Linked DNA regions of Homo sapiens. The protein of the gene in region 3 purifies or fractionates together with the protein of the main gene of each other region. This does not show direct contact. Each region holds a gene or a part of one and is shown on either strand. Other genes may lie near its edges.

Region 1 (7,172 bases), on a different chromosome or scaffold from region 3:
TGCTGACTGAATAAATGTACACACAGTAACTTCACAGACCCCTAAGTATAAATTTGAAAGCCTTCCAAAAGGCTTTCATATTCCTATTTCCCATCTAAATGACAAACACCAGGACTTAACTCATTTATATATTTATGTATAATGTTGGTGTTCACATCAAATCTTCCCTTCCTCTGTGTCTAGCTGCTATGAAACTTTGATAATATTCCTCCCTATAACTTCCTATATTTTCTCTCTCCTAACAGCAGGAGAAAAGCTGAGTGGGGTACAGCTGAGTCCCGGTAACCAACAGGAGATGAAGAATAATGTGGAGAAAGTGCTACAGTTTGTGGCCTCTAAAAAGATTCGTATGCACCAGACTTCGGCTAAAGGTCAGTGCCTCATCACATCCTTGGTGCATGAGTATACTTTAACCAGTGAGTGCTAGCCTCAGGAAAATCCTTGGCTGTAACCTGGGGGAAGATAGAAAGTCTCCATTCATTTTATTTTATTTTTTATTTTTTATTTCATGATTATTATTTTTTGCGACGGAGTTTCACTCTTCTTGCCCAGGCTGGAGTGCAATGGCACAATCTTGGTTCACTGCAACCTTTGCCTCCCTGGTTCAAGTGATTCTCCTGCCTCAGCCTCCCAAGTAGCTGGGATTACAGGCATGTGCCACCATGCCTGGCTAATTTTGTATTTTTAGTAGATATGGGGTCTCACTGTGTTGGTCAAGCTGGTCTCGAAATCCTGACCTCAAGTGATCTACCCGCCTCGCCTTGGCCTCCCAAAGTGCTGGGATTACAGGCGTGAGCCATTGTGCCCGGGCATTCATTTTAATTGAATACAGATTTGCTTGAGTGTATGTAGGAAAATTAGTGGTTAGAGAAGAAATTATGGTTGGGCATGGTGGCTCATACCTGTAATCCCAGCACTGGGAGGCCAAGGCGGGAGGATCACTTGAGCCCAGGAGTTTGAGACTATCCTGGGCAACATAGTTAGGCTCTGTCTCCATTTTTTAAAAAAGAGAGAAGAAATTACAATATTGGGATATTAATTTTAGAATTTCTCATTTAAGTTATCAAAAATGAAGAGTTTATGTTTTTTAAGTTCCTTGGGTTTCATGACAAAATATTATTTAAGATACTCATAACCTACATTTTTTCCATCTAGTTTTTTAGAAGGGAAATATTTTATAGCCCTTTTTTGGATATCATAGAACATTCTAGGCAGGATGAAAGCAGCTCTGTGACCTCTGCATCTGCCCTCTTCTGTAGTGGCTTGGCCCAGATGGGTTTGCTGGGCTATTTTGAGCCCAGGCTTCAAGGGAGGAACAGTGTAGGTGTTCTTAGAGAGCATAGGCTCCCTAGTTCTCTTGCTGTTTCTCGAGAACTGACTATAGACCTGGTTTTGTTTCAGCGTCAGTTCCTGGGTCTGATTGCCTTTGGGTCTCATGACAATAGGGGCAGAACGGCTCATGTTGGATTATTATATTAGTGTTCTCTGTGTTTAGATCATTTAGATGAGGCCAATACTGATCATTGAGAGCACCTTGTGGAAGGTATCAAAGAATCCTTCACCACTCCTTCTCAACATAGTACTGGCAGTCCTAGCCAGAGCAATCAGGCAAGAGAAAGAAATAAAAGGCATCCAAATAGGAGAAGAAAAAGTTAAACTATCTCTCTTCACTGATGATATGATTCTATACCTAGAAAACCCCAAAAGCCTCTGTCAAAAGGCTCCTAGAACTAATAAATGACTTGAGTAAAGTTTCAGGATATAAAATCAGTGTGCAAAAATCAGTAGCATTTGTTTTACTTTTTTGAGATAGAGTTTTGCTTTGTCACCCAGACTGGAGTTCAGTGTCGTGATCTCACCTCACTGCAACGTCCGCCTCCTAGGTTCAGCTGATTCTCCTGCCTCAGCCTCCTGAGTAGCTGGAACTACAGGCATGCGCCACCATGCCTGGCTTATTTTTGTATTTTTGTAGAGACGGGATTTCATCATGTTGGCCAGCGTGGTCTCGAACTCCTGACCTCAAGTGATCCACCTGCCTCAGCCTCCCAAAGTGCTGGGATTATAGGCATGAGCCACTGCACCTGGCCAAATCAGTTGCATTTCTATACACCAATAACATTCTAGCTGAGAGACACATTATGAACACAATCCCACAAACAATCCCACTTACAATGACCACACACAAAAAAGAAATATCTAGGAATACATCTAACCAAAGAGGTAAAAGAAATTCAAAATACAAAAATTAGCTGGGTGTGGTGGTGCATGCCTGTAGTCCCAGCTACTCAGGAGGCTGAGACAGGAGAATAGCTTGAAAGCAGGAGGCCGAGGTTCCAGTGAGCCAAGATTGCGCCACTACACTCCAGCCTGGGCAACAGAGCGAAACTCTATCTCAAAAAAAAAAAAAAAAGAACAAAGCTACAAAGCTGGGGTGTCACATTACCTGACTTCAAACTATACTACAAGACTACAGTAACCAAAACAACATGGTACTGGTATAAAAACAGACACATAGACCAATGGAACAGACTAGAGAACCCAGAAATAAAGTTCCACACCTACAACCATGTGATCTTTGACAAACTCAACAAAAATAAGCAATGAGGAAAAGAATCCCTATTCAATAAATGGTGCTGGGATAACTGGCCAGCCATATGCAGAAGAATGAAACTAGATCCCTGTCTATCACCTTTTGCAAAAATTAACTCAAGATGGAATAAAGACTTAAATATAAGACCTTGAACTATAAAAATCCTAGAAGAAAACCTAGGAAATAACCCTACTTGATATTGGCATTGGCAAAGAATTTATTACTAAATCCTCAAAGCAATTGCAACATAAACAAAAATTGATAATTGGAATCTAATTAAACTAAAGAGCCTCTGCATAGCAAGAGAAACTATCAGGGGAGTAAGCAGATAGCCTATAGAATGGGAGGAAATATTCACAAACTATGAATCTGACAAAGGTCTAATATCTAGAATCTATAGGGAACTTAAATAACAAGCAAAAACAAATAACCCTATTGAAAAGTGGGCAAAGGACATGTACAGATACTTCTCAAAAGTGGCCAACAAACATATGAAGAAAAGCTCATCAACACTAATCAGATAAATGCAAATCAAAACCACAATGAGATACTATCTCACACCAGTCAGGATGGCTTTTGTTAAAAAGTCAAAAAATAACAGATGTTGGCAAGGCTGTGGAGAAAAGGGGACACATATATTGTTGGTGGGAATGTAACTTTGTCCAGCCACTGTGGAAAGTAGTTTGGAGATTTCTCTAAGAACTACAGCAATCCCATTACTGGGTATATACCCAAAGGAAAATAAATCATTCTACCAAAAGGACACATGCACCCGTAGGTTCATTGCAGCGCCATTCACAATAGCAAAAACATGGAATCAACCTAGGTGCCCATCAACAGTGCAGTGAATAAATAAAATGTGGTGTGTATATCTATATCTATATCTATATCTATATCTATATCTATATACACCATAGGATACTATGCAGCTATAAAAAAAAAATTCATGTCCTTTGCTGCAACATGGATGCAGCTGGAGACCATTATCCTAAGCAAACTAATGCAGAACCAGCAAATCAAACACCATTATGTTCTTACTTATAATTGGGAACTAAACACTGGGTGCACATTGGGACATAAAGATGGGAACAATAGAAACTGGGGACTACTAGAGGAGGGAGGGAAGGAGGGAGGAAGGGCTGCAAACTACCTGTTGGGTACTGTGCTCACTATCCGGATGATGAGTTCAATCGTACCCTAGACCTCAGCATCACACAATATACCTTTGTAACAAACCTGCATGTGTACCACCTGCTTCTAAAACAAAAGGTGAAAAAGAAAAAAAACAAACACAAATAATCCTTTTCCAAGACTTGTATATTTAAAGGCTACAAAGCTAAAAAATAAAATAAAAATTTACCCATTTCGTTACATTGACTTTCACCAGACTTACCACACTGTTTTCTGCCTACATTCCTCTTTTATTTCTAGGGCAAAATTTAGAGTTCCACGATACCTCTGATCTGGTTCCCATGTGGAGTGGGCTTGGGGATCTGGCCCATTAAAGTCAGCTATTTTGAGGGAACACTGCCATTTAGGACATCATTGTCATTTACCTGGAGAAGTGTAACAGTCTGAGTTAGTCCTGCGGCATTGATTTTTGTCCCCTTCTCATCTGCTCTCCACACTGCAGTCAGAATGATCTTTCTAAGAGTACATATACTCATGCCACTCCTCCGTATCTGAGGACCCTTAGGATAAAATCCAGAGTCCTTCCTGTGGCCTCCCATGCCCTGTGTGATCCACCCTCTGATGCACCCCTCTGCTGCCTCACCTTTCCCTGTCTCCCCCTGCATTCTGGGCTCTGCCTATGCTGAACTTCTTTCACTTCCTCCACCACAGTGCTGTGTCACAGAAATAGAATGCAACTCACATAGGTAACTTAACCACATAGGTTTCTAATAGCAGGCCGGGTGCAGTGGCTCACACCTGTAATCCCAGCACTTTGGGAGGCTAGGCCTCCCTGATCACACTCCTGGTCACTTGAGGTCAGGAGTTCAAGACCAGCGTGGCCAACATGGTGAAACCCCATCTCTACTAAAAATACAAACATTAGCTGGGCGTGGTGGTGGGCACCTGTAATCCCAGCTACTCAGGAGGCTGAGGCAGGAGAATCGCTTGAACCCAGGAGGCAGAGGTTGCAGTGAGCCAAGATCGTGCCATTGCATTCCAGCCTGGGGGAAAAAAAAAAAGAGTTTCTAATAGCCACATCATAAAAAAAGAAACAGGTGAGCCGGGCGCAGTGGCTCACGCCTGTAATCCCAGCACTTTGGGAGGCTGAGGCAGGTGGATCACCTGAGGTCATGAGTTCAAGACCAGCCTGGCCAACATGGTGAAACCCCATCTCTACTAAAAATACAAAAAATTAGCTGGGCATGGTGGCGGGCACCTGTAATCTCAGCTACTCAGGAGGCTGAGGTAGGAGAATTGCTTGAACCTGGGAGGTAGAGGTTGCAGTGAGCCAAGATCACGCCATTACACTCCAGCCTAGACAACAAGAGTGAAACTCCATCTCAAAAAAAAAAAAAGGTGAGATTAATTTTAATAATATTTCATTTAACTCAATATATCCAAAATACCATTTCATGCAATCAATATAAAAAGTTATCGAGATATTTTGCATTTTGGGGGCATGTGTGTATGCTAAGTACATACTACACTTAGAGCACATTTCATTTCAGACTAGTGACTTTTTAAGTGCTTGATAGCTACAGGTGGCTAATGGTTCCCATATTAGATGGCATAGCTCTAATATATCATGCTCTCTCCCACTTCAAGACCTTCACACCTGCTGTTCCCTCTTCCTGGAATACTCTTTGTCTTTCTCTTGTCTAACTAATGTGCTACTCTTTTGTCAATCAAGTCTCAGTTTAGAACCCACTTCCTCTAGGAATCCTTCTCTGAGCCATCTAGATAAGATGTCTCTACTCTGACCTCCCAAAGAATCCTGTACTTCTCTTATCAAAACACATGATCTTACTTTATTGTCATTGCTGTTATATATTCGGTCTCCCTTGTTGCCCAGAGCTTTGTGAGGACTGAGACCCTGACTGCCTTGCTTACCTGTATCACTAGCAATATGTAATAAATGCAGAAGTCCTCAGCTTTTGCCTCCCTCTTAGGACCTCTTGGTCTGTTTTATTCTTGGTCCGTTTTATCCTTCAGATATTGTGGATGGAAACCTGAAGTCTATCATGAGGCTGGTCCTTGCCTTGGCAGCTCATTTCAAACCTGGCTCCAGCAGGACGGTGAACCAAGGACGGGACTCCAGAGCCCCTCTGCAAAGTCACCGACCACACTGTGCCACTGCTGTTGCCCAGGGAGCAGCTGCTGCTCTGGCCGATGTGTGTCATGACATGTCCCGATCAGGACGGGATGTCTTTCGATATAGACAGAGGTAAGGGTAGAAATCTGGGGGTGGGAACTGATCCCTCTCTCTGATACTTCTTCTGTTAGATGATACAGTGCAGTAGATAGAAACGTCACCCAAACAGCCCCAGATTGCAGAAAAGAACATGGAGTGGGGAGGTAGGGGAGGGCACTCTCAAAAGAGAAAAGCCTTTTCTTCTGAGATGTTTATTTTTATTTTGCATTTAGCAAAAGTAAAGGAATCTTATGTGTAAGTTTTTGCTCTGGTGCCCAAAATTTAAATATACACTTTTGGCACAGTGTGTTTTCTTCACTGGGAGGTCCGTGGGAGCAGTGTTCCAGTTCATCTAGAGGAAGCTCCACTCTGGAATGTACCCAAAGGTCAGGTTGTCTTGGGAGTCATGGCAGGAAATGCTTTGTGGGTTGTGTATCTGCTAAGAGAGAGCAGGACCCTGAGGTGTTGCACAGGTTGGTGAATTACTTGTTTTTTGTCTGCCTTCCCTGCTAGGTACCAAGTGTCTTTGAGGCAGGGGTTTTGTCTTACTCATGTGTGTATACTGCTCGCAGAGTGGCAGTCTCTCTGTACTTGTTGAGTTGATCTGATCTGAAGGACTGACACCTTCCCTTTGCTGGGGTCCTTTGACTTTAGGAACAGCAGCATGGATGAGGAAATTGAGAATCCATACTGGAGTGTGCGGGCCCTAGTGCAGCAGTACGAAGGGCAACAAAGGTCCCCGTCTGAATCCAGCTGCTCCAGGTAACTGTGGCCTCTGAAACCTGAATTCTGGAGGATTCTCGGAGTTCTCGGCTTCAAGTAACAATACAACAAGCAAAAAGGCACCTAAGCCCTTTTTCTCCCCTCAGTTTATGTTTGGCTTTAAAGGGATACCCCTTAGCAGTGCTTTGTGGGTTTGTGCTAGTAGGAGGGTAGGAAGGTAGGGTGGGGTGCTGGTTTATTTCCCACAAATGGAATCTGTGCAGTCCCAGTGCCAGTGCTTAACTGTGACCACATGGGGGCATGGCTGGAACCTGTCAGGGCCCAGTCCAGTGGTTCTGACATTTGCATATGAGGTGCCAGTGTTTATGATAGCCAGTTCCATTGTGCTGTCCTTGAGCCTAAGTGTAACTCTTAAGGCCGGAAAAGTCTGTGTAAAGCTCATAGAAGAGAAGAAATTGAGCAGAGTTGTCTTAGAGCATTAGAATGTTTCCAACT
Region 2 (7,172 bases), on a different chromosome or scaffold from region 3:
TGTATTTCTTTTGTTTTGGTTTTTGTCATCATGTTATATACATGTCTATTCTAGTTTCCTTAGCTATCTCTCTTATCTCTTCTAATTTCTTTGGAGGGAAAGACCACACTTCTTATTTTTTAACACGTTTTCCATCATCAATCCTTATGTTTAGCACACTGTAGACTAGTGATCACTGGACACACTAGGCATGTACTTGCTAGACCAAGCCATAACAGCTGCTGAAAAAGCCACTGGATGTGCCAATCACCCAAAAGCCTCACCATACACTTGTCCAGGTGCGTCTGTATGACGTCAGGGTCTACGTCCTTCACATCCAGAACGTGAAGTTCTGCTTTCACGCCATCCAGCACACGCTTGCAGTCCAGCATGCGCTGCTCGAAGTTAGCTGGCTTCTGGAAAAGCTGGAACTTTGTGGACACCTCTCGGAGTTTCCTCTGTTTGCAGAAATGAAAATATGCAATTCCCATCAGGATGATTATCTCTCTCATCATGAGCATAACAGATACTACTAAAAATTTGTACCATAAAGTACCAAAAGAAAAAAATTCAGAAATATGACCCAAAATAAAAAACTCCTAATGAATCTCAGTGAGGGTACCCGATCACCTAAGTGAACTGCATAGCCCAGTGTCAAAAATTACAACACTCAGTGTCTCAATCTCAGAAGTAATAGATTTGGATAAGAAATTTAGATAAAGCTGACCTCACTGGAATTAAAACTTCATGTTCAAAAAGATAGTTCAGGAACCTAGAACTCAAAATGCCCTTCATCACAAGTTCAGAGTGAAAGTCAATGTCATATCAACCATGAAAGAACTAAATGATGCTGCATCCAATTCATGCTCGGCCTGCCCACAGCATCAGCCACACGATACTGACAGAGGCTCTGCATTAAAGAAAAAGTGTATATAAAGCTAACTTCTAAATCTGGCTCACTCTCTTGTTTCTCATCTCAGCTATCAAAATCAGATTTCATATTTTTCCACACATGCAACAATTTGTTTCTGCTGCCCTAGGATGCAACCTTCAACACATCATCACTCCCATCCCATGGTTTACATCACAAAGAATACAAACGGTGCCCAAGTAATCAATTCTTTCTCTTTTTTGAAGAAAATTCCCAACAAGTTGAAAAGTAAAAGGAAGCTCCTGGCCTTCTTTACCTGTAGCACATCCATCTGACTTCCTCCTCTGGCAGTCCTACTCTCTGGGGAGGTCAGGGGCTGAGAACGCATATTTCTTCTCAACTCCTCTAGGGTTAGCTCATGGGCTGAGATCTCTGCTTGGATTTTCTAAAAAGAGATTGGAAAGGGGAGAGGATGTCCTTTTTTTTTTACTTAAGTATAAAAAGAGACAATACAAAAGTTCTATATCGTTGTGTAATACATGATATCGTATTTTACATAATGTTGACCTCCACAGAAGCTTTAATAAGTTTTTGTAGGCCAGGTGCGGTGGCTTATGCCTGTAATCCCAACACTTTGGGAGGCCGAGGCGGGTGGATCACGACATCAGGAGTTCAAGACCAGCCTGGCCAAGATGGTGAAACCCCATCTCTACTAAAAATACAAAAATTAGCTGGGCACGGTGGCGGGCGCCTATAATCCCAGCTACTCGGGAGGCTGAGGCAGGAGAATTGCTTGAACCTGTGGGGCAGAGTTTGCAGTGAGCCGAGATCGCGCCACTGCACTCTAGCCTGGGCAACAGAGTGAGAATCCGTCTAAAAAATAATAATAATACGTTTTTGTATAATAATAATAATATGGCCCACTGCATGGTATGACTATTGTACATGACGCACCTGCTAAGGGCTTTGCATTTGTCGTTTCTAATGTTCACAACTTATTTATAAGGAAGGAATTGTCCCAACTTCACAGCTAAGAAAACTACAATTTAAAATATACAGGACTTTTCAGCCAGGCACAGTGGCTCACGCCTGTAATCCCAGCATTTTGGGAGGCCGAGGAAGGTGGATCACCTGAAGTCAGGAGTTTGAGACTAGCCTGGACAATATGGCAAAACCCCGTCTCTACTAAAAATACAAAAATTATTGGGAGGCCGAGGCAGGCAGATCACTTGAAGTCAGGAGTTCAAGACCAGCCTGGCCAACATGGCGAAACCCCGTCTCTACTAAAACTACAAAAAATTAGCCGGGCGTGGTGGCGCGTGCTTGTAGTCCCAGTTATTCGGGAGGCTGAGGCAGGAGAGTCACTTGAACCCAGGAGGCGGAGGTTGCAGTGAGCCAAGATCGTGCCACTGCACTCCAGCCTGGGTGACATAGTGGGATTCTGTCTCAAATAAATAAATAAAATAAAATAAAATAAAATAAAATAAACTATATAAGACTTTTGCCAGAGTCTCACATAGAAAGCAAGAGAACTCCAAAACCCAAATGCTGCCCTGTAAGTAAGGTCAATCTTTCCCATTGACTCTCGGTTTTGGAGAGCAGGAGGGGTTCTCTTATAGTTGAGGAGGCAATTACAAAAGCTCTCTTTACAGCTCAAAAGCCCTCAAATGCACGGCAATACCTGAGCTTCCTGTGGAACTTGGAAAGCATCTATCCTGTCAGTCAGGTATGTGGTGAGCTGTTTGTCCAGCTCCCCCAAGCTCTCTTGCAAGACTTGAAGCATCTGGTCAGTTTCCCGCAGCACCTGGAGTTGCTTTTCCAAAGAAATCTGCTTGCTCTCTGCCTGCACAAAGGAGAAATTGAATCATTAGTTGCCCAACACAAATATAAATAGCAGAATATATATATTCTGGCCACTAAGAAAAGACCATAAAAGCTTTCATCCAAGACTTTAGCTTTCTTTATAAATAAATAATAATTACTAATGATAACAGTGAAAATGTCCCACTAGGATCTTATGTACCATGCAGCTGAATTACTAATTATTACTTCTTTCTATATATAATGTTGAAATACAAAAATGTAAAGGTTTCCCATAAGATGCATTAAACAGAAGATAAAAATGTGTTATTTATTATAATTTTAAAGCATTTTTAGGAATCAGCAATGTCTGCCAATTAAGAATATAAAACATAAGAAAAATGTCTATCAATACACAAACATCAGAGTCTCTTTTTTTCCAAAGCCTAAAACAAATTCTATAGGTGTACATACATATCAAACTACTATTTACAGCACTTTTGGGTTAAGCTTGATGTTATTCATGGGCTGAACATCAACAGTTATTATTTAATATGTGTTTGGAAGCACCTAATATTCATACCCAACCTTCCTATAAAAGAAATGTTCTTTCTCTAATTTGTGATACGAATATGTATGTTACAACCTGGATATGAACTAAGAGACTATGGCTTTCACAGCAGCTTATGTGAAATATCATGGCCCTAATATTTACTAGGATAGTATGAGTTGTTGTTCTTATATACAGCTATCATATGATCCTTAATGAAAATTAAATGTTTGTAAGTAGAAGTAATCTCAAAAATAATTTTTTTAATCATCCAGTTCTGTCTTAGAGTGTTAGATCTATTCTTCCTTTCTGAATATTTCAATACCCTCAATGCCCCTGTTAGCATTGGTTACCAACTTTAACCAACATTAAAGATTTTTCCAACATTAAAGCTCTATGATATGGAGCTTAGGGCCAGCTCCACTTCATCAATACCTAATCAACACCCATGTATGTCCCAACTCTTACCAGGTGACTTAGATCTTCATATCGGCTGTTGAAAGCCTCCAGTTTCTCACTGATTATATCATCCAGGATCCCCCCATCAATCAGAGTCTGGCCAAGCTCTCGAATCTGGGTGCGATTATCTGCCGGGTGGCGCAGAACAGATTCCAGAGACTGGAATGGAGATGGGAAAAAAAAATAATAATGCATTTACTAAGGCAAAAGGTATCAAGGATCCCCAAAATGTCTATTTGTTAAACAAGTAATTATATTTTCTAAAAATCTACCTAAGTAACAGGACCAAAAGTTAAGTAAATTACTAATTCACAAAAATATCCATCATGGGATTAAAAAATGCATAAAATTGAGAAATTAGCACAAGTGATATATGATATAATTTCACAAAAATAATTTCAACTATTATTAATTATGGGAGGGTGAGGCAGGAGGATCACTTGAGCCCAAGAGTTCAAGGCTGCAGTGAGCTGTCATACCACTGGACTCCAGCCTGGGCAACAGAGCGAGACTATGTCTCTAAACAATAAATAAATGAATAATAAAAAGTTAAAAATAATTATTAATTATATGGGGAAATGCTCATGACACAAAGTTCAAAGGCAGAGAACAGTACTATACAAGCAAAATGATCTCAACTTTTATTAATTATATTACTAAAAATAAGTAGTCATTTTCCTACAATATATGCAGAATAAGAGGCATTGTTTTATATACACACTTTTTATATACATAAATCTAATTAACCATATGGGCTAAATAGCATTCCCAGTTTACAGATTGGAAAATTGAAGCTCAGAAAGGTTAAATTACTTGCCTACATACACACAGTCAAAAGAAGAGCTAAGATTCCAACATGGCTCTAAAGCTTTAAGACTCCAAAGCCTGGCCAAGTGCGATGGCTCACACCTCTAATCCTAGCACATTGGGAGGCCGAAGCGGGTGGATCACCTGATGTCAGGAGTTCGAGCCCAGCCTGGCCGACATGGTAAAACCCCATCTCTACTAAAAATACAAAATTAGCTGGGGTAGTGGCACACGCCTGTGATCCCAGCTACTCAGGAGGCTGAGGCATGAGAATTGCTTGAACTCAGGAGGTGGAGGTTGCAGTGAGCCAAAATCATGCAATTGCACTCCAGCCTGGGCAACATAGCAAGATTCCATCTCAAATAAAAAGATAAATAAGTAAATAAAAGACTCCAAAGCCTTTGATCCAATATACTACCTTCTAGTATGCATACATAAAAGATAATAATTAGGAAGAAATCTACAAACTGTTTTAAAATGTTTATCTTAGAGTTTGCTTTATACTTTTCTTTATTTTCCATATTTCAAGAATATATACGTATTCACTCTTACATTAGGAAAAAAATTAAGCTTTTCATATTTTTCATTCACTCTGTCTCTCACTCTGCTATATTTGAGAAGTGACATCTTTTCTCTAGCAGAGCATCCGTCTCCTGGAATGTAAGTGCCACATTTTACTCATTTCTGACCTTTAATCCAGTTGTCCACTCAGTTCCCACATGGTACCATGACATTTTTAAAAGCCTATCTACCCCCTTCCCTTTTCTTTTTTGTTAAGCAAACCTACCCTCTTTGCACTGTATTTCATTTAAGAAACGGTTATTAAGTTAACATGTGCTACACACTGTGCTGGGAACTGAGGAATAACAAAGCATCGGGTACATTTCTTGGCCTCAAGGAGTTCAAATCCAGGCTTGAAGACAAGCTCCTACGACAAGATCCCATGGCTCAACCACTGTCTTAACTTCTAGCATCTGAAGGTAAGAGACAGGAATCCCCTATAAACTGTCAGTGCTGTGTTTAGTGAGTAAAAATAACTTGTTGATGAAACAAGAGAGCAGTTGTCCTAATAACATATGGCAGAGCTTTGTCCAGGGCCTACTAAAATAAACTGGAAAACCACTAGAGTGCTTCAACATGTCTAAAATGTAAGATGTCAAACAGCTAACCACGTCTTGAGGCTGATATAATGGGTCACCAATAATCTAAATACACATGATTGTATAAACACTTCAGGCTATGGAAGAAAATGCAAGTGACATTGAAAACCACTGAGGAAGCAAATGCATTTGCCTGCGTAAAGCATTACATTCCTCATTGTAATACACGTGTGGCCTCATCACAGCAAAGAGAAATGCCGTGGAGATCACGGGTTCCAACCTCCAGGGCTTCGTTGACAGCATCCGTCTTCTCAGGCAGGACCTCTGTGCTCTTCATCCGCTCTTCCAAAGTGTTTAACCAGGTAGTTTCAAGATCCAAATAGTGAAGCAGTTCAATCCAACAAGACCAGACCTCCTAAAGCATGAAAAATTTTAAATTAGACAAAAAGCCATTTCACACATCGTATCTCTAGTACTACACATTCTCTTTAATCGCTAATAATTTCATTTGGATGTGAGTATACCTAGGAATTCAGAACTGATGGAGTTGAAACTTCAAAAAAATAAAATAAAATCGGCCAGGCGTGGTGGCTCACGCCTGTAATCCCAGCACTTTGGGAGGCTGAAGCAGGCAGATCATGAGGTCAGGAGATTAAGACCATCCTGGCTAACACGGTGAAACCCTGTCTCTACTAAAAATATATATATATATATAAAAATATTAGCCGGGTGTGGTGGCGGATGCCTGTAGTCCCAGCTACTCTGGAGGAGGCAGGAGAATGGCGTGAACCCGGGAGGCGGAGGTTGCGGTGAGCTGAGATTGCACCACTGCATTCCAGCCTGGGCAACAGAGCAAGACTCCATCTCAAATAAAATAAAATAAAATAATCAACAAAATCATATGAGACCAGTTGGTGAAGGGTGGGGAGCAAAGAGTGGGCAAGAGGCTGCCTCACTCTTTAAAATAAATTCCATGATCTGATTTAAATGTCAAAAATAGAACTATATAATTAGTAAGAAAAACAGGAGAGAAACATTATTTAGTTTGTTTTTTAAAGACCAAGTGCGGTGGTTCACACCTGTAATCTCAGCATTTTGGGAGGCCAAGGCAGGTGGATCACATGAGGTCAGGAGTTCAAGACCAGCCTGGCCAACATGGTGAAACCCCATCTCTACTAAAAATACAAAAACTAGCTGGGCATGGTGGCAGGCACCTGTAATCCCAGCTACTCGGGAGGCTGAGGCAGGAGAATCACTTGAACCTGGGAGGCAGAGGTTACAGTAAGCCCAGGCCACGCCACTGCCCTCCAGCCTGGGTAACAAGAGTGAAACTCCATCTCAAAAAAAAAAAAAAAAAAAAAAAAAAAGTTTGGTTTTTGAACAAAATGAAAAAATTGCTCCCAATTGTAAATTTTTAAAAAATAATTTCATAGAAAATTGAAATCTCCTGGGCCCCACCCAATTCCAACTTGGAGCTAACTGATGTAAAAGTTTGCAATGTAGCCTTCCCAACTTTTTTCTAAATTCATGAGGACATGTCAATATAAGAGAGCCACATTTTACCAAAACTGGAGTTATACTGTTCTTACTGTGTTGGTTTTGATCA
Region 3 (7,912 bases):
TACTAACATTAAAAATTAAGATATTTATTTCACCCATGAGTACTTCCTATGTGGCAGGTCTTTACATACACTAGCCCCTTAATTCATTACATTAGTGCCTTAATTACTACAGCCCTGAGAGGTAGGTACTGTTTTACTTACTATCTTTACATTATTCCCTGGTTTACCCACTAAATAAGTGGCAGAGCTTGGGGTCAAACCCAGGACCAGGTGACTCCAAAGCCCAAACCCTTTCTACTAAAATATACAACCTCTATCCAGAACACAATCCAAAATCTAAGGGTTTTTCTTTTCTTCTATACAAGCATATCACTGAAATTTCAATTTGATTTACTTTGCTCAAGATTTAGTGAGCACCTACTATGTGCCGATTACTGTAGAAGATACGAGAAGTACAAGGAATAAAACATAGGCTTTTCCCCTTCTTGGAGTTTAGTTGGACAAGACAGATTTTAAAATGCTTTAAAATACACTAAGCACTATTCTAGAAAATTGAAACATATCTCCTTAAACTACAAAAAATTTTAAGGATGAGAGGGAAGCAATATGATAGGCCAGGGTTCCAACCCTAGTTCTGCCATTAGTGTGGCTTTGGTGTCTTGTGCAAACTGTAACTGCTATTTCTCCTAAAAGAGTTGTTTTGAAAATTCCACGTATGGGGAGTTCCTGGCACAGATTAGGGACTCGAAAGCCAAAACTTTAATTTCCAGTGGCAATAGGTTTCTCAAGAGGACCAGATGTTTACATTTGTCAATCAGCATATTCTTCTCCAAATTTCATTTATTTAGTTACTCATTCAACAAACATTCATTGACTGACTACTCTTCTAGGCACTTAGAATACTGTGAACAAGAAAGAGTTTGCATTTTAGCCTGGTGGGGTGGAGATGAACTCAGCAACCCTCTGAGGTGGGTACTGTTGTCATCCTCATTTTGCAGACTGTGATACTGAGGCATGGACTCTCTAGCACAAGGTCACTGAGATGGGGAGAGGTGGGGCAGTGACCTTGAACACTATGTCTGCCTTGTATGCATTTTTCAAAGTAGAGAATATAGCATTTCATTTTCTTAACTCAGTGACCATTAATGCCCACTAATCATTGTACTGTCATACAGTGATGCTCTCAGGAACTACTGAGAGGAACTACTGAGGTCAAGTGGTTGACTGACCCTGCCCTAACTGACCCAGAAATGAGATGTAGTTTGTGTTCCTGCTGCCAGCTGCCATTTCCTACAGAAGTCTAGAGTGTTTCTACTCTGCTGCTGGAGTTGCCTAGGGGGAATTCTGGTAGCCACGCTAGTTAAACTGTTGAGGTTTTAAAAATGGAATCGTAAACATAAATTCTGTCTCCCTCAAGTGGCCTCCCAGTCTGGAAGTGACACCATTCTCTGGGAAAATGGCATCAATTTCTCCAGAGGCATTCTTCGTTAACTCGTGGATTTCAGCTGCCTAAGGTTGCTCTAAAAGTGCCTGTTCTATCAGTTATCATTCATAATCAGGCTAATCTGAAACCTAGTTCTTCAGGGGGAATCAAGGTCCAACTTTCTAACAGATGATTTGCATGGCTTGAAGATTTTTAAGAAAAGGATAACTCTATTCCTGGTAAACTGGCTCCTGGCTCACTTCCAGTCACAATGACTAAAGCATTCTTACTGATAGAATTCAGCTCCTGGGAGGTAGTAGTCTGATGAGAAACCAGATGCCAGCTTGCCAGGTCATCCCTCCTGTAAGGGTTATGGTTATAGAGATGCCCTGCTTTACATGATAAGCTGTACAAGGATCTGTACTAGAGAATCCAGCAAAACCTTTTAATGGCTCAATAGGCCTAGGGAACTTTAGCGATCATATAAACCTTGCAATCTATCTCCAGGAATACAGTATCTTGCATACTCTCATTTAATCCTAACAAAAAAACTCTATGAGGGAAAAGAAGAAACACAGGCACAGAGAGATTAAGTAATTTGCCTAAGGTTGCACAGCTTTAGGGGGTTATCAGGATTTGAAACCAGGCAATGTGTGTTCCTGTTCTTAAAGAAAAGCAACATTCGTATCTTAATGATTTATAAACTGCTTTGTTCATTCATTCTCATTTAATTCTTCAAAGAAGTGGGGGAGGTGAGGAAAGGAGACCAGGTTTAGTAACTTATTAAGTGTGATTCTGTGTCTACCAAGCATATTCTCAGCCAGCCTGGAACCCTGGTACATTGGCTGTTCTTCGCTCTTTCCTTGACCCCACCGTACCTTGCTTTATCCACCGGTGAAATCTCTAGGAATGCCTCACCAGTGCAGAGGGAGGCGCTGAGTCAGGGTAACACGCAATTCCTCGCTCCTCAAGGGTCTCCCAAAACCACAGGCGGATGGGAGTCAGGGAAAATCGAAATTACACGCACCAAATACGCAAGGCTGCTGACACACGTTGGCAGTGATTTACCTTTCTATTAATTGCAAGGTTTCGCGGAGTAGGTTAGTTGCCAGAGTTCCAGCCCAGAAAAACCGTTAATGTAGTTAGTCGCGTCCCGGTTGCAGCTCTGCCCTGGGCTGGAAAGGTCCCGCCCATTACCTGTGGCCAGCACGAAGGCCGGGACGCTGTGGAAGCGCACCGGTCCGTGGCTGCGGCCGTCCTCGCATGCCACGAAGGCGGTCACCAGCCCGCAGGGGCAGTGGATATTGACGCGGGCCTCGCGGGTGCCCGCAGGGGGCGCCGGCACAAGCCCGAAGTCCAAAGCGAAGCGGCCCAGCGCCAGCACTGCGTGGCCGCACATGGAGCTGTAGCCCTCGTTGTGCAGGAACAGGACGCCCAGATGCGCGTCCGGCAGCTCGCTCGGGACTAGGACCGCCCCGTACATGTCCCGGTGCCCTCGGGGCTCGAACATGAGCCGTCGCCGCACGTGGTCAAGGTGCTGGCGCATGTAGCGCCGCTTGGCCAGCAGGGTGGGCCCAGACACCTCCGGACACCCCGCCAGCACGATACGCAAGGGCTCGCCGCCCGTGTGCATGTCCACCACCGACAGCACCGGCGTCCCTGGATCATGCGGGGGCAGCCGGGGCACCGCCAGCGCGCTCTCCATGGTCTGCGTCGGGGGAGACGAGTACGGTCCCGCAGCTATGGCTTCAAGCCCGACCCTCACCCACTGACTCCGCGGGAGGAGGGCGGGACGCTAACCAGCCACGTCCGGGGGGCGGGGTCTCGGAGCCTAAACCCGGAAGCGAGGGAGGAACTTCGGAGCTGTCGCCCGGGTTACCGGGAGGCGGAGCCGCCGAGCTCGCTGTGGCCCGGATGTTCGGTGCAGCTGCCAGATCCGCTGATCTAGTGCTTCTCGAAAAAAACCTTCAGGCGGCCCATGGGTGAGTGGTCGCCAAGATCCCGGGAAGCGTTTCTGGTAGTCCCGACTACTTTCCTACACGGCTGGCCTCGGGCTCGGCTCTTTGTAGGCGGCCTTCGGTTGGCGGCGCAGGCTCGCCCCTTGACCCCGCCCGCCCTCGGGCCGGGCTCCGCACTCCTGCGGGGTTGGGGTGGTCTGTCCGCAACGGGCTACTAGGGGAGGCGCGCTGTCTGCGGCGAAATGCCAGGTCTTTGTTGTTTGGTCCGAAATGTCTCTTCAGTCCCTTAGTTTAATGTCGAGGGAACACTTGCTTGAGGGTTGACTTCGGAATTGAAAACGCGGGTGATAGTGCAGAAAAAACAGTAAAGCAGAAGCAAGTTGCTGCATAATTTGTCTACTGCTTCAACCTCAAACGTAGATTTATAGCGCCCGTCACAAAGGGCAGGACCGCTGCAAAAAAATGGAATCTTAAAACTTTAGCCATCGTTCGCTAAAGGAAATGAAAGGAGAAATTCAACAGTCGCTTGGAGCCTGGGTTTTGCTTAGTAAGTGATAGGCTGTTTATTTCAGTTCAGTTTATCATACTGGTTTTCAGGCCTTGGATTTTGAGAAACTTTAGATTATTGATATTCACGTGTATTTATTAAGCATCTACTAGATGTAAAGCCCATACAGAAGTTTCCAATTCCTTACCTTCTGCATTCTTGAAAAACCTGAAATATTCATTTTCATGTATTAATTTAGAACATTGTGATTACAATTGGTTACAAAAAAAATAAGCGCCCATTAAAGAGGCCAGTGGGTTTAAAAAGCTAAGTCCGAAATTTGTTAAAAGCGAAAATATTAAACTGGAGGAATATTATTCAATGCTGTTTCTCTTTTTCTCTCAGCAGCATAAGGAGAAGGAAGTAAAAAGTCTGCTTGAATGTGAAAGGAGAGAAGGCACTGTAGACCAGGCAGTCTAGATTGTGAATTCGTGAATAATTTGGGAAATGATTGTTCAAGAATAGTCAAAAGATGCATAATTTTTCAAATTAATTCACATGTAGACCGCAGTTTGTTTTGAGACGGAGTCTCCTTCTGTAGCCCAGGCTGGAGTGCAGTGGCGCGATCTCGGCTCACTGCAACCTCTGCCTCCTGGGTTCAAGCGATTCTCCTGCCTCAGCCTCCCCAGTAGCTGGGACTACAGGCGCGCGCCACCACGTCAGGCTAATTTTTGTATTTTTAGTAGAGACGGGGTTTCACCATTTTGGCCAGGCTGGTCTGGAACTCCTGACCTCATGATCTGCCCACCTCGACCTCCCAAAGTGCTGGGATTACAGGCGTGAGCCACCTCACCGAGCCTGTTTGTTTGTTTTAATCAATGAATGAATGAAGGGAATCAGATGTCACTGATGAAGAAAACTTCCATAATTTCTTGTGAATAAGGTCAAAGACAACGTATTAGGTTCTTAGTTGTTGGGGTTTTTTTAAGTAAGGAATAGCTGCTTTTCCCCTAAGCCTTTAGATCAGGGGCTTAATTTTAATGCAGTGGTTTCTAAAATATTGGCCCAGTGACAGCCTTGATGAAATTTTCACTTATCCTCCACAAAAATGATAAAAGCTAGGACAATGTAGGAAACTTTTTATAAAGGTAATTTGCATACCTCTGTTATGAAATTATGTTCTCTCTGCTTTTCCCATGTGAAAATGTGTTCTGTTATGAACATAGGTGATAATGATAATTGTGTGTCTACATGTGGGTGCTTAATGTCCTGACTGGGCAAAATACAAGGTGGTGACCCTCTACTGGTGCTCTAATTTAAAAATATATGTATATTTGAACTTTATAATCAGTTAAACTCAGAAGTATCCTCTAATCATACCGGGTTAGGCTTTGAGTCCTGGAGATAGATCCTGCTCTGCTGGTTGAGGACCTTAATCATAAGGCACGGTATTAACAGCAAGGTTCCAGGATAACTGTCTGCAGTGTCACAGTGTAAAAGGAGAAATGTAAATTTAAAAATGCTTCAAGACTTTTGTCTAATACATATTATTCAAAAATTTGAAACTGTTATTTTTGCCAAATGCTTCAGCTATTATTGCAATTATTTTTTATAATCACAAAAGATGTTACTATACTGGCATTTGTTTTTAAAAAGCTGTCGATATTCAACCAGCATGCCTTGGACTTTATTGTGGGAAGACCCTATTATTTAAAAATGGCTCAACTGAAATATATGGAGAATGTGGGGTAAGTCTTATGTTTGTATCTTATTTCATTTTGTAAAATCTATTTGCTTTTGAAATATTTTCACATACAACATTTTTTGTTATTATACTCATTAATTTATAAAAGAATATGGAGGACCAGGCGCAGTGGCTCATGCCTGTAATCCCAGCACTTTGGGAAGCCTAGGTGGGTAGATCACTTGAGGTCAGGAGTTCGAGACCAGCCTGACCAATATGGTGAAACCCCATCTCTGCTAAAAATAGAAAAAAATTAGCTGGGCATAGTTGTGTGCGCCTGTAGTCCCAGCTACTCGGGAGGCTGAGACAGGAGAATTGCTTGAACCTAGGAGGTGGAGGTTGCAGTGAGCCAAGATTGCACCACTGCATTCCAGCGTGGGCAACAGAGGGAGACTCTGTCTCAAAAAAAAAATAAAATAAGGAAATATAAAAGAATATGGAGGCATTAATATAGTCATTGTTCATGTTGGCATTTTGATGTCTATATTATTTTTTAAAACATTTAATAATTTTATAATAATTTCTAATTTATGATTTGGTACCGTGTCTTGTACAGTAAGTTGAACATCATGAATCCAGAACATTTATCTGCAGTTATTCTTATATAATGTTAATAACTAGGTTTTTCATTGAATGTTAGTCAACTATTTTAGTAACTTAGTAAAAGGAATCTTCTAAGAGCATTGTACAAATATAGCACATACAATATAGATTTCTTTTTATTTTACTTATGCCCTCTTTTTTATTTCTAAAAGCTGCACATGTAAACTTAAATATTTAAACTGAAATGGGATGTCTTATAGAATGATTTGGGGGGGTGTTAATGTTGTAAAATAATATCTGTACACAAAATATTGGTTTTATATATTATAGGTATGCCCAAGAGGACAGAGAACGAATGCACAGAAATATTGTCAGCCTTGCACAGAATCTCCTGAACTTTATGATTGGCTCTATCTTGGATTTATGGCAATGCTTCCTCTGGTTTTACATTGGTTCTTCATTGAATGGTACTCGGGGAAAAAGAGGTTAGCACATTTCTATGAACATATCTGGCTGGACTAATGTTGGAATAATTATCACTCAGAAGACCTTATTAAGTAATTATGCTTCTTCTGTTTTAAAAGTGGTAAACATGTTTTTCTTTATCTTCAGATTATTCTTAACTGTGACAAGAAAACTTAACAATAGGGCATGACTTAGTAATTTTTAAGGGAACTGTCCTTAGTCTGTTTTACTCTCAGTGATCTTGAAGGAATACTTTTACTTCTCAACTATAATCCTTATTGGTTTTCTACACAAAATTGGTTATGATTACAAGCTATTTATTGTTATGGAACACATTCTTTGTAATTTAATTTAATACTAATAATCTAGTATGATGTAGTTAAAAATGATATAGCTGTAACCTAATACAAAAACTCATATTAACATATTAAATCAGCACACATTTACTAAGCACTGCATTTTATGTTTGGAAGATCAGGGAAGGAGATATAAAAATAACTGACATGGCTTATAGTCATAATCTTGTGGAGAAAACAAGTGTGTACATAATTATAAATCAGTCTTAGAAATGTAGTGGAAGAGTTATAAACAAAGTACTCTGGAGTTACAAAGAACAGAGAGATAAATTATGCCTCATGGGATCTGAAAGATTTCAAAAAAGGAACATTTTAGGCAGAAGAAACAGCATGAATAATGGCATAGAGGTATGAAATATGTGATCTGTGGTAGGCAGGAATGGAAGTAATCTGGGGTAGTCAAGAGTGGGTTGCAAATGAAGAAAAGTAATATAAAGGGGAGTAGGAAAGATAGGTTGAGGCCAGAATGTGAAGGTTCTTGATAAGCATGTGAACTTTAATCTGCTGGGAATGGGAAGTCAAATTCTGCCTTACTGATTTTCTTTTAGTTCCTCCAACTTCTCAGGATCTTTCCTACTTTAGGTTCTTTCCCTTCCTGCAAACTCTTTCTGCTGTCTGAAATACTCTCTTCATCTGACTGCAACTTGTTACCTAGCTACCTTCTTTTCCTTCTGATTTCAGTTTAAAAGTCACTCAGAAAGTTGAGTACTAAAAACAAAACAACAACAACAAAACAAAGAGTGCCCAATTAAAAGAGAAAAATAAGGAAGACAGCCTACTTTCTATTCTTTCCTTCTAGGCCTCTGGGCCTGTGGTCGGACAGGCAGTCTGAAAGACTTCTGAAATGCCTTCAAGCCTTTTTCTCATTGTGTTGGCTATTAGCACTTGGCTCTCTTTTAGCCATGCTAACCTCTCTAGCAAGTTGCTGTACAGCCTGGTTGAATTCCTCTCCTGAAAATGCTTTTCTTCTCTACCACATGGCCAGGCTGCACATTT
Region 4 (7,963 bases), on a different chromosome or scaffold from region 3:
TCCTACTTCAGAACAGGGCAAGACAGCTTTCTAGAAAAGGCAGTGTTTGAGTATTAATGAATAAATGGGATCTAGCTGGGGAAAGGCAATGGAGGTGGGGAGAATGAGGTGCAGGTGCCAAGGTCCCAAGGTGAGAAGGACAGGGGATGTGGACAGCTCCATGTAGGGGGATCTCCTGGGCGCAAGAGGTCTTGTGTGTTTAAGTTTTGGGGTTTGACTGTTAATCCAAGCGGAGGTACAGAAAGGTTTTAAGGAGTGGCATCTGTGCTTTGGAAGGGCAGTTTGGCAACAGGTTGGAAGGCAGACTGCAAGAGGCAATGCATGTCAGGAAAACCAGTTAGAAGAGTATTGCACTGAAGAGAGAATGGTGTCCTGAACTAAGGCAGAGGGAAATAAAGCATGAATGTGGAAATGACTTGGGAACAGAAGAGAAAGGAATTTGGTGATAAATGGAGGCAGCACAGCACAGGTGAGCTGGAGTCAGACTCTACTGTGGATCTTAGGCAAACTACACTTGTGCCTCAGCTTCCTCATTTATAAACCAGGAATGACAGTCATTAGCACCTGTCTTATAGTGTTGGTGGAAGATTGAAGGAGTTAATAGTATGTGAAGGCTTGGGGTACAGCCTAGCACATTATCTTACCCAGGAAATATTAACTATGATTATGAAGCTCAGAAAAGAAGAAAAAAGGAATGACTAAGTTCACTCCCAGGATTCTGGTTTGGGCAACTATGTATGCAGTTCTCAAAGTGTGTTCTGTGGACATCTAGAGGTCTCAATGACGCTTCAAAGTAGAATGTGAAGTCAAAACTATCTTACAGTAAAATGTATTTGTTTAACAATAAAATTGTTTTTAAAACTGCATCTCACCTGATTCTAATTTAAAAAATTGGCCAGGTGCAGTGGCTCATGCCTGTAATCCCAGCACTTTGGGAGGCCGAGGCGGGCGGTTGATTTAAGGTCAGGAGTTCAAGACCAGCCTGACCAACATGGTGAAACCTTGTCTCTACTAAAATACAAAGATTTTTTTTCCTTTATGTATGTTTTAGATAAGCATGAAGGATAAGCAAGTTTCATTAAATGGGAAGAAAATGTTTTATTCCTTTCTTGTTACATGAGAAATACTATTATTAAGCACCATTCATTTTTGCTTAGCTTCAAATGAGTCTCATGACAATAAAAACGTATGAAAAATACCTTGGTGAAAGTTTTGAACAATCTGACCAACAAGATAAAGTATTATTGAATTATAATTCAAATTATAAAACGAATATCCATGAGTGCATACTGATAGGAATAAATGACTAAGTTAATGAATGGGGAAAAAGAGACAAATCTCTAATGCAGAATAAATTAAAATAATACAGATACTTCACCCTAAAAAAGATCACTCCTCACTCCTTAGGTGTGGGCTGCACACAGTGACTTCCTTCCAAAGAGCACAGTATGGAAAGGGAGGAAAAAGAGTAATTTTACAATGGAGAAACCTGACAAACATTACCTCAGCCAAGCGGTCAAGATCAACATCAACAGTAATAAATCATGATGTCGGTATGAACTCTTAGTATGATGTGATGAAAATGGTACTTTATCTCTATGATCTTCCTCCCCAAACCCATAACCCCAGTCAACTCGTCTACCGGAATTCATCTGATGTTTTTGTCGCATGGTTAGCCTACAAAATACTTGACCAGCACTCCTCAAAACTGTTAAGGTCATCAAAACAAAAGTCTGAGAAACTGCCATGGCCAAGAGGAACCTAAGACATGACATCTAAATGTGATGGGTATCCTGGACGAGATCCTAGAGCAATAAAAAGATATTAGGTAAAAACTAAAGACATAGGAATAAAGTATGGACTTTAGTTAATAATAACACATCGACATTGATTCATTAAATAGCAAACACATCATAGGGTAATAAATATGCCATACTATAAGATGTCAATAACAGGGGAAACTGTGCATGTGTGGTGGGTGGGAGAGGGGAGTGAGTATATGGAAGTCCTGTTCCACCTGCTCAATTTTTCTTTAAAACTGTTCTAAAAAATAAAGTCTATTAATGTTTTTAAAAGCCTGGTATTTATTGGGAATAATTCCACCATCCGTCTATCATCCATCATGGTAACCTAGAGACCTAAAATTCTATAATGGGATATCCTACATACAATTCAAATCAGCATTTACCCAAGTCCTACTATATATGCCTTTGAACTGCTGAATACTGGCTATAAAAAGATGAACAAAACAATTTCCGAGGTCGAGTTGGAAATAAAAGACATTTAAATAAGTAATTTTTGTCCTGTAAGATGAGCATAACTGTAGCACAGGGAAAAGGATCTGTGAAGCTTCGACAGAGGAGATATACAAAAAAAAAAAAAAAAGGCACAGAATAAAGAAATGGGTGGGCTAAGCCTGAATTTTTTTTTTTAAGCCTGTGCCTCCAAGCATCTTCTGGGGTTTTTTCCTCCTGAAAATGAATGTCGGAGCAATCAAAATAGTTACCCCAGAGAAGCATGGTAGAGGCCAACAGTTTATTTACCATGGTGTTTTAACTTTACATGTACAATAGGGGAAATATACTTTAGGTGAATTTTAAAACGGATAAGTAGGAAAAGAGCAAGCTAAAAACAAACATACCCGCCCCCTACCCTTTATTTTCTCTTTTTTTAACAGACCCACTTGTCTATTGACCAGGTATCTGTAATATGGGAGAATTCACTCTATTCCTTTCCACACAAAGACGTCTTGGAATTTTCTAATTTCTCCTTTACTATGATTGCATTCTGTTCACATAATAGTCAAGGGTATGGAAAGAACATTTATAAGAGCAGTGTCTTTTAAAATCAATTTACTAGTTAACTCAGTACTGAGCATACATTCATCATTCAAAGATGATTCCCACAAACGTTACTCGACATACTGGTTTTCAGTATATTTTATCAAATTCAACCACGAGGGCCACCAGTTCTGCTTACGATCAGGTGACCCTTGTTGGGAGACCCCTGACCCCTTTTCTTGACATCATGCTGTTAGACCTTTAAGCTAGCTATACCGCTAACTGCGTTTTGAGTGACTGCAAAAGGGAGGCAACTTCTGCCCCGCCGAGAGCCATCCTAAGCGTTAGAAATGGCAGAAAGTTTCTTGGGACTGACAAGGCATGGGCTTCTCCTGATGCTGTCACCTTGGGCAAAGCTCCTACAGGTAAATTAGGGAGAGAATTATTTTGCCGGCGTCACGAGACGAAGAATCGAAAAAGTGTGAAAAAGGACTTCGCCCGCCCCAAAGCGCCCATCCGGCGGCGGCTATTTCCCGGGCCTCAAGCGCGCTCGAGCGGCGCAGCACAAAAGGCCGGGCGGGAGCGGGGGTCGCCGGGCGCCGCCTCCCGGTGCATCTCGGGAAGGGCTCCCGCCCGCGAGGCTCCGTCTCCCCGGCGCGGCCCGCTCGCCGTCCGGCTCGCTCAGGGCCTGGGCAGACGCGGCCCGCCCGAGCTACCGCGGGTTCCGAGACGCCTTCGCACTGCTCCTCCACCCGGGGGATCTTTGTTCCCGGAGCTGTTCCCCGCCTCGCTGCTCCCGCCGCAAAACCTGTTTGCGGAATACCCGCCGCAAGTCTGACTTGACGATGTGCAGTTTTGGGGTGCGCCAGTTGTGGGGGCATTCATAGAGGCAGCGAAGGGACCCCTAAGTTTAAACACCCGGGGAAGGATAAAGGAAGAGCGTCGGGCCCCCCTCCTCCCAACAGCGCTCGGGCGCGAACGGCGCCCTCCCGCGCTGCCGGCTCGCGCGGGCTCCGCAGGGCGCGCTGGCGGCGGCGGCGGGGCGGGGCGCGGCAGGCGGGCCCGGGGCCTGCACGTGGTGGCGATCTTTCTTCCCACCCGGCCAGGTCCCCGGGGACCACCGCGCTCAGGGGGAGGAGGAATGCCGTTCCCGGGCCCCGCTCCGGAGAGGGGTTTTACCCTCTGGGATCCCGGAATTGGAGGTGGAGAAGAGAGGAAGCAAGGGAGGGCGCGGCGTGGCGCGAGCGTTTCCTGCGCGGGGACTGCGGGGTGGCAGCTGGAGGCCACTGCAGGGGCAGAGCGGCGGGTTGGGGGAGCGACCGACCCATGGGGAGGGAAACCCGGTAGGGGGAGCAGGGAGCCGGAAAGCAGGGTTGATACATACCTGGGTGGGCGGGCTGGAAATGCCTTCCCTGGGCGCGCCGCGCAAGGCCGGCGGAGCGGGCTCCGGGTGGTCGCGGACCGGGACTGGGGAGAGCAGAGCCGCACTTGGCCAGGCGCGTGGCTGAGTGGTGTTTACATTCTGCAGCCACTCCACGTTGTGCTGCCGCCCGTGCCTCCCATTGGCCAGCTCTTCAGCCAACGCTTTGCTCCTCCCCGAGGGGCGGGCCCTCGGGTCCCCGCGTCGCTCAGGAAAGACCTGGGTTCCCTGAGGCCTTGGCGGGACAGCTAGGGCGCGCCCCTGGACGGTCACTTCCCAGCCACCCTATGGTCGCCCGAGTCGTGTCCCCCTGTTATGCGCCCGGGCTGAGCCGCAGGCTGACACCCCCGAAATCCAGGAGTTGCAGTGGGAGGAAGCAAAAGCAAACTGGCGGGAGATGCGCGAGCCAGGCGGCGGGGAGAACAGCCGCGGAGAAGGAGCCCCTGAGAGTTTCCCTACCGCCGCCGGCCGCGCCGTGGAGCGCGGTGGACGCGGGCAGAAGGCCCGGTAGAGTGGACCCCACGGCCGCTCCGGGTGGCGGGCGCGCACTGAGAGCAGGGCGCGGCGCGCGGGCACGCGGGCGGACGGGCGGGAGAGGGGAGCGCGCTGTCCGGAGGTGTCAGTCTGAGGCGCATGCGTGCGGGGCGGGACCGGCCCGGCCTATATATTGGGTTGGCGCCGGCGCCAGCTGAGCCGAGCGGTAGCTGGTCTGGCGGTGAGGAGTTGCTGCGCGTAGGGGGGATGTGGGAGGAAAGAAAGCCCAGTTGGGCCGATCACTTACCACAGGCGGGAGCCTCAGGGAGGAAAATCGGGAGGGCTGAGAACTAGACGACTGGGGGTCATGGGTTCCCGCGTTCCGTCCCTGTCAGGAACCTTGGCAGGGGACCGGGAAGCGGCTGGGCATGGAGAGCCGCCCCTCATTCTAGGGGCTTCTCTATCCCACCCTCATTTGGGGAGCTATCCCGTGGGAGAGAGGATGGGAGGCCGGGTCCCCTCCATGGGGAGAAAAGTTCCCAGCCAGCCCAGTCTCCCCTTTCTTTAGCTCCTTTTCCTGCCCTCCCCCACGCCCTCCGCTTCCCATCTGGAGTTGGGGTCCCGGCGCCCCTCCGAGCGGCGGTAGGGCGGCAGGGCCGGGAAGGAGGGAAAGGAGACTGGAGGCCGTGACACCAGTCTTGGTTCCTCCGCCCCCTGCTTCCCCGCCACCGCCGCTCTCCAAATTGGCGCGGAACCGGCTTCTCCACAGCATTTCGCCTCCACAACCCCCTCTCCCCGCTGGTCCAGGAGGGAGGCGGGACGTGGGGGCGCTGCCCAAGCCCCACTCCCGGTGTACGGGGGAGAGGGTGGAGGACCCAGAAAAACCCGTTTGAGGAAGATGTGCCTCCCTGCGCGTTCAAGGTGTCAGGAGTGCTTGGTAAATTTTTGGACACTCGCGTTCCAGCTGTACATTCAGTTGAGGAAATGCAGGCTTGTATCCAAAATGAATTACCATGAGCTAGCTAACATAGCACAGAAGATGGCAGGGTCACAGGGCCCAGGCCCCCTTCGGAGGGACTGAGCTTTCACCTGCGAATCAGCGTCTTACTGGCACTTGGAGAATGTGAATGACAATGTACTTGACTGCGGCTTTTCCTCTCCCCCCTTCAGAGGTTTTATACACCTGAAAGAAGAGAATGTCAAGACGAAGGTAACATTATCTGTCTTAGAGACATGTTTCAAATTAGTTGCTGCCTTTAACTTACTAATTACACTTCCTTTTTAAAAATTCACTACAGTAGCCGTTTACAAGCTAAGCAGCAGCCCCAGCCCAGCCAGACGGAATCCCCCCAAGAAGCCCAGATAATCCAGGCCAAGAAGAGGAAAACTACCCAGGTGATTTAAGGAGAAAGAGGGAGGAACGAAATTCCATGCTGGGACTTTAGTTTACCAATGGTCTTTTCTATTTTCCAGGATGTCAAAAAAAGAAGAGAGGAGGTCACCAAGAAACATCAGTATGAAATTAGGGTAATGCAGAACTGGGCTGGGTGGGTTTGGGGGAAAAATGGAGGATAGATGAATAAGAATAGAATTATGTGTTTATTGCTTTGCGATAGATTCCTCTGACACTTTTACTTTTAATGCCCCTAGAGGTCAGCAGGAAGGCGCCTATCTTTGGGTGGTTTCTATGTGCCCGAATCCTACTACAGCTGCAGAATAAGTGCCTTCAAGCAGCTGGTTCCTTTTTGTAAATCCCTCCCTCTTGGAACTGCCTGGTGCACCAGGGCCCGCCTAATCTGTCCAATATACTGCTCTTTGTTCCCTCGCAGACTCTAGTAGACGGTCCTAATAGCTGCTTCTTGGGCATAAATAGGATGTGAGATCACTGACAGCCTGGCACGCAGCCCTTTGGTACCTCTTCTTCCTATGTGTTTTACAGAAAGCAGCACTTTGGAGATAGTGATTGCGTTTGAAACCAGCATTATTGGGAAAAGAATCGTTTAAGTAATCGATTCCATTTTTAAGGTTTTGCTTTCAAATATTCAAAAGTATCAGAGCACACTTTTTTTAAAAAGAGCTTATTTGAAAAAAAAAAAAAAAGGTCCCTGCTACTATTGCTAGATACAGAGAACGATTCTGTGATCTTGAAAGTGATTAGTATTTTAGACTGCAGATGCATTTTGTTATTACTGTCCTTCTTCGACACCTGGTGTCTTCTATTACCAGAATTGCATTTTGTTGTCTAAAACATCCTATTACTCTTTATAAAAATCAATATGAGCTATATGGCTTGTTTATAAAATGTGAATGTCAAATTAGCTATATTGCCATCTATGTTAGCTAAAATTATGATTCTTTAGACATATTAGCTTTCATTTATGAAAGATCCATTACAAAAACTAAGGTTTTCCTTGCACAAATTGATATTTTTCTTTTTTTTTATGACAGAATTGTTGGCCACCTGTATTATCTGGGGGGATCAGTCCTTGCATTATCATTGAAACACCTCACAAAGAAATAGGAACAAGTGATTTCTCCAGATTTACAAATTACAGATTTAAAAATCTTTTTATTAATCCTTCACCTTTGCCTGATTTAAGGTAAGAAAAATTTCAGTAATTTTATTTCAAAGATATAAAGTTGTGCTGATTTAATACATGGCACTATTTTGTCTTTTGCTTTCATAAAGTAGAAAAACGTGTAAAAATTGTTTACTAATATTTAATCATATGTCATTTTATCTGAGAGTAGTGCTGGTTGCAAATGATATGGGTATTTAAAACACTGATTCTATAAAATTATTTTCATTTGCTTGCTGAGTACTATAAAGACTTAACAGGACTGAATTAGTTTTTTGTTAAGATAGAAACATTTTTACATGTACAGCTTTTTCCTTTAAAATTTTTATTCGTGTTTCTTGCAGCTTCAACTCAAAGGAAGCTTTTCCAATTGATGTATCAACCCTATTTATTTCTTACCAAACTTAATAAGGTCTATACTTAATTCTTTTTTCTAGTCCATGAGTGTAACTAAGAGGTACAGCTTATACAAAACATGTACTGTATTAATTTATGATTGGCCTTAATAAGCAATTTAATGGAATCAGACACTTAAACTCACCAATCCCCCTTTCCCTGCATTCTGTCCCACCTTACCCACCCCATAGGTGATCCTGCTGTAGATGATCTATTTAGAGGTGATTGAGACTTCTCTTGACTGTGATCACATGCCTTATGTGTTTAACTTTTTTGTATTGCTCTTGAGAAAACATTTTTTTTCACTTTTAATT

What was found.
Region 1: the proteins of L3HYPDH (region 3) and DIXDC1 purify together in Homo sapiens (affinity purification with mass spectrometry; 3 studies listed by BioGRID and IntAct, with this or other methods). This does not show direct contact.
Region 2: the proteins of L3HYPDH (region 3) and UTRN purify together in Homo sapiens (affinity purification with mass spectrometry; 4 studies listed by BioGRID and IntAct, with this or other methods). This does not show direct contact.
Region 4: the proteins of L3HYPDH (region 3) and CCNE2 purify together in Homo sapiens (affinity purification with mass spectrometry; 3 studies listed by BioGRID and IntAct, with this or other methods). This does not show direct contact.

Annotation. Positions count from the first base shown.
Region 1 is NC_000011.10:111,968,268-111,975,439, forward strand, and holds part of DIXDC1 (dixin), read left to right. Parts: intron 1-245; coding exon 246-371; intron 372-5,755; coding exon 5,756-5,987; intron 5,988-6,608; coding exon 6,609-6,716; coding exon of another isoform or gene 6,717-6,720; exon of another isoform or gene 6,721-7,172. UniProt on the Homo sapiens protein: Positive effector of the Wnt signaling pathway; activates WNT3A signaling via DVL2. Regulates JNK activation by AXIN1 and DVL2.
Region 2 is NC_000006.12:144,484,194-144,491,365, reverse strand, and holds part of UTRN (utrophin), read right to left. Parts: intron 5,982-7,172; coding exon 5,847-5,981; intron 3,819-5,846; coding exon 3,669-3,818; intron 2,694-3,668; coding exon 2,532-2,693; intron 1,296-2,531; coding exon 1,167-1,295; intron 438-1,166; coding exon 264-437; intron 1-263.
Region 3 is NC_000014.9:59,481,249-59,489,160, forward strand, and holds the start of L3HYPDH (trans-3-hydroxy-L-proline dehydratase), read right to left. Parts: upstream 3,161-7,912; 5' UTR 3,069-3,160; coding exon 2,561-3,068; exon of another isoform or gene 2,432-2,560; intron 2,328-2,431; exon of another isoform or gene 2,242-2,327; intron 1-2,241. Other genes in the region: JKAMP (JNK1/MAPK8-associated membrane protein), read left to right, coding at 3,823-3,868, 5,465-5,556, 6,426-6,580. UniProt on the Homo sapiens protein: Catalyzes the dehydration of trans-3-hydroxy-L-proline to Delta(1)-pyrroline-2-carboxylate (Pyr2C). May be required to degrade trans-3-hydroxy-L-proline from the diet and originating from the degradation of proteins such as collagen-IV that contain it.
Region 4 is NC_000008.11:94,892,129-94,900,091, reverse strand, and holds the start of CCNE2 (G1/S-specific cyclin-E2), read left to right. Parts: upstream 1-4,890; 5' UTR 4,891-4,915; intron 4,916-5,844; 5' UTR 5,845-5,870; coding exon 5,871-5,884; intron 5,885-5,972; coding exon 5,973-6,069; intron 6,070-6,147; coding exon 6,148-6,201; intron 6,202-7,122; coding exon 7,123-7,274; intron 7,275-7,963. UniProt on the Homo sapiens protein: Essential for the control of the cell cycle at the late G1 and early S phase.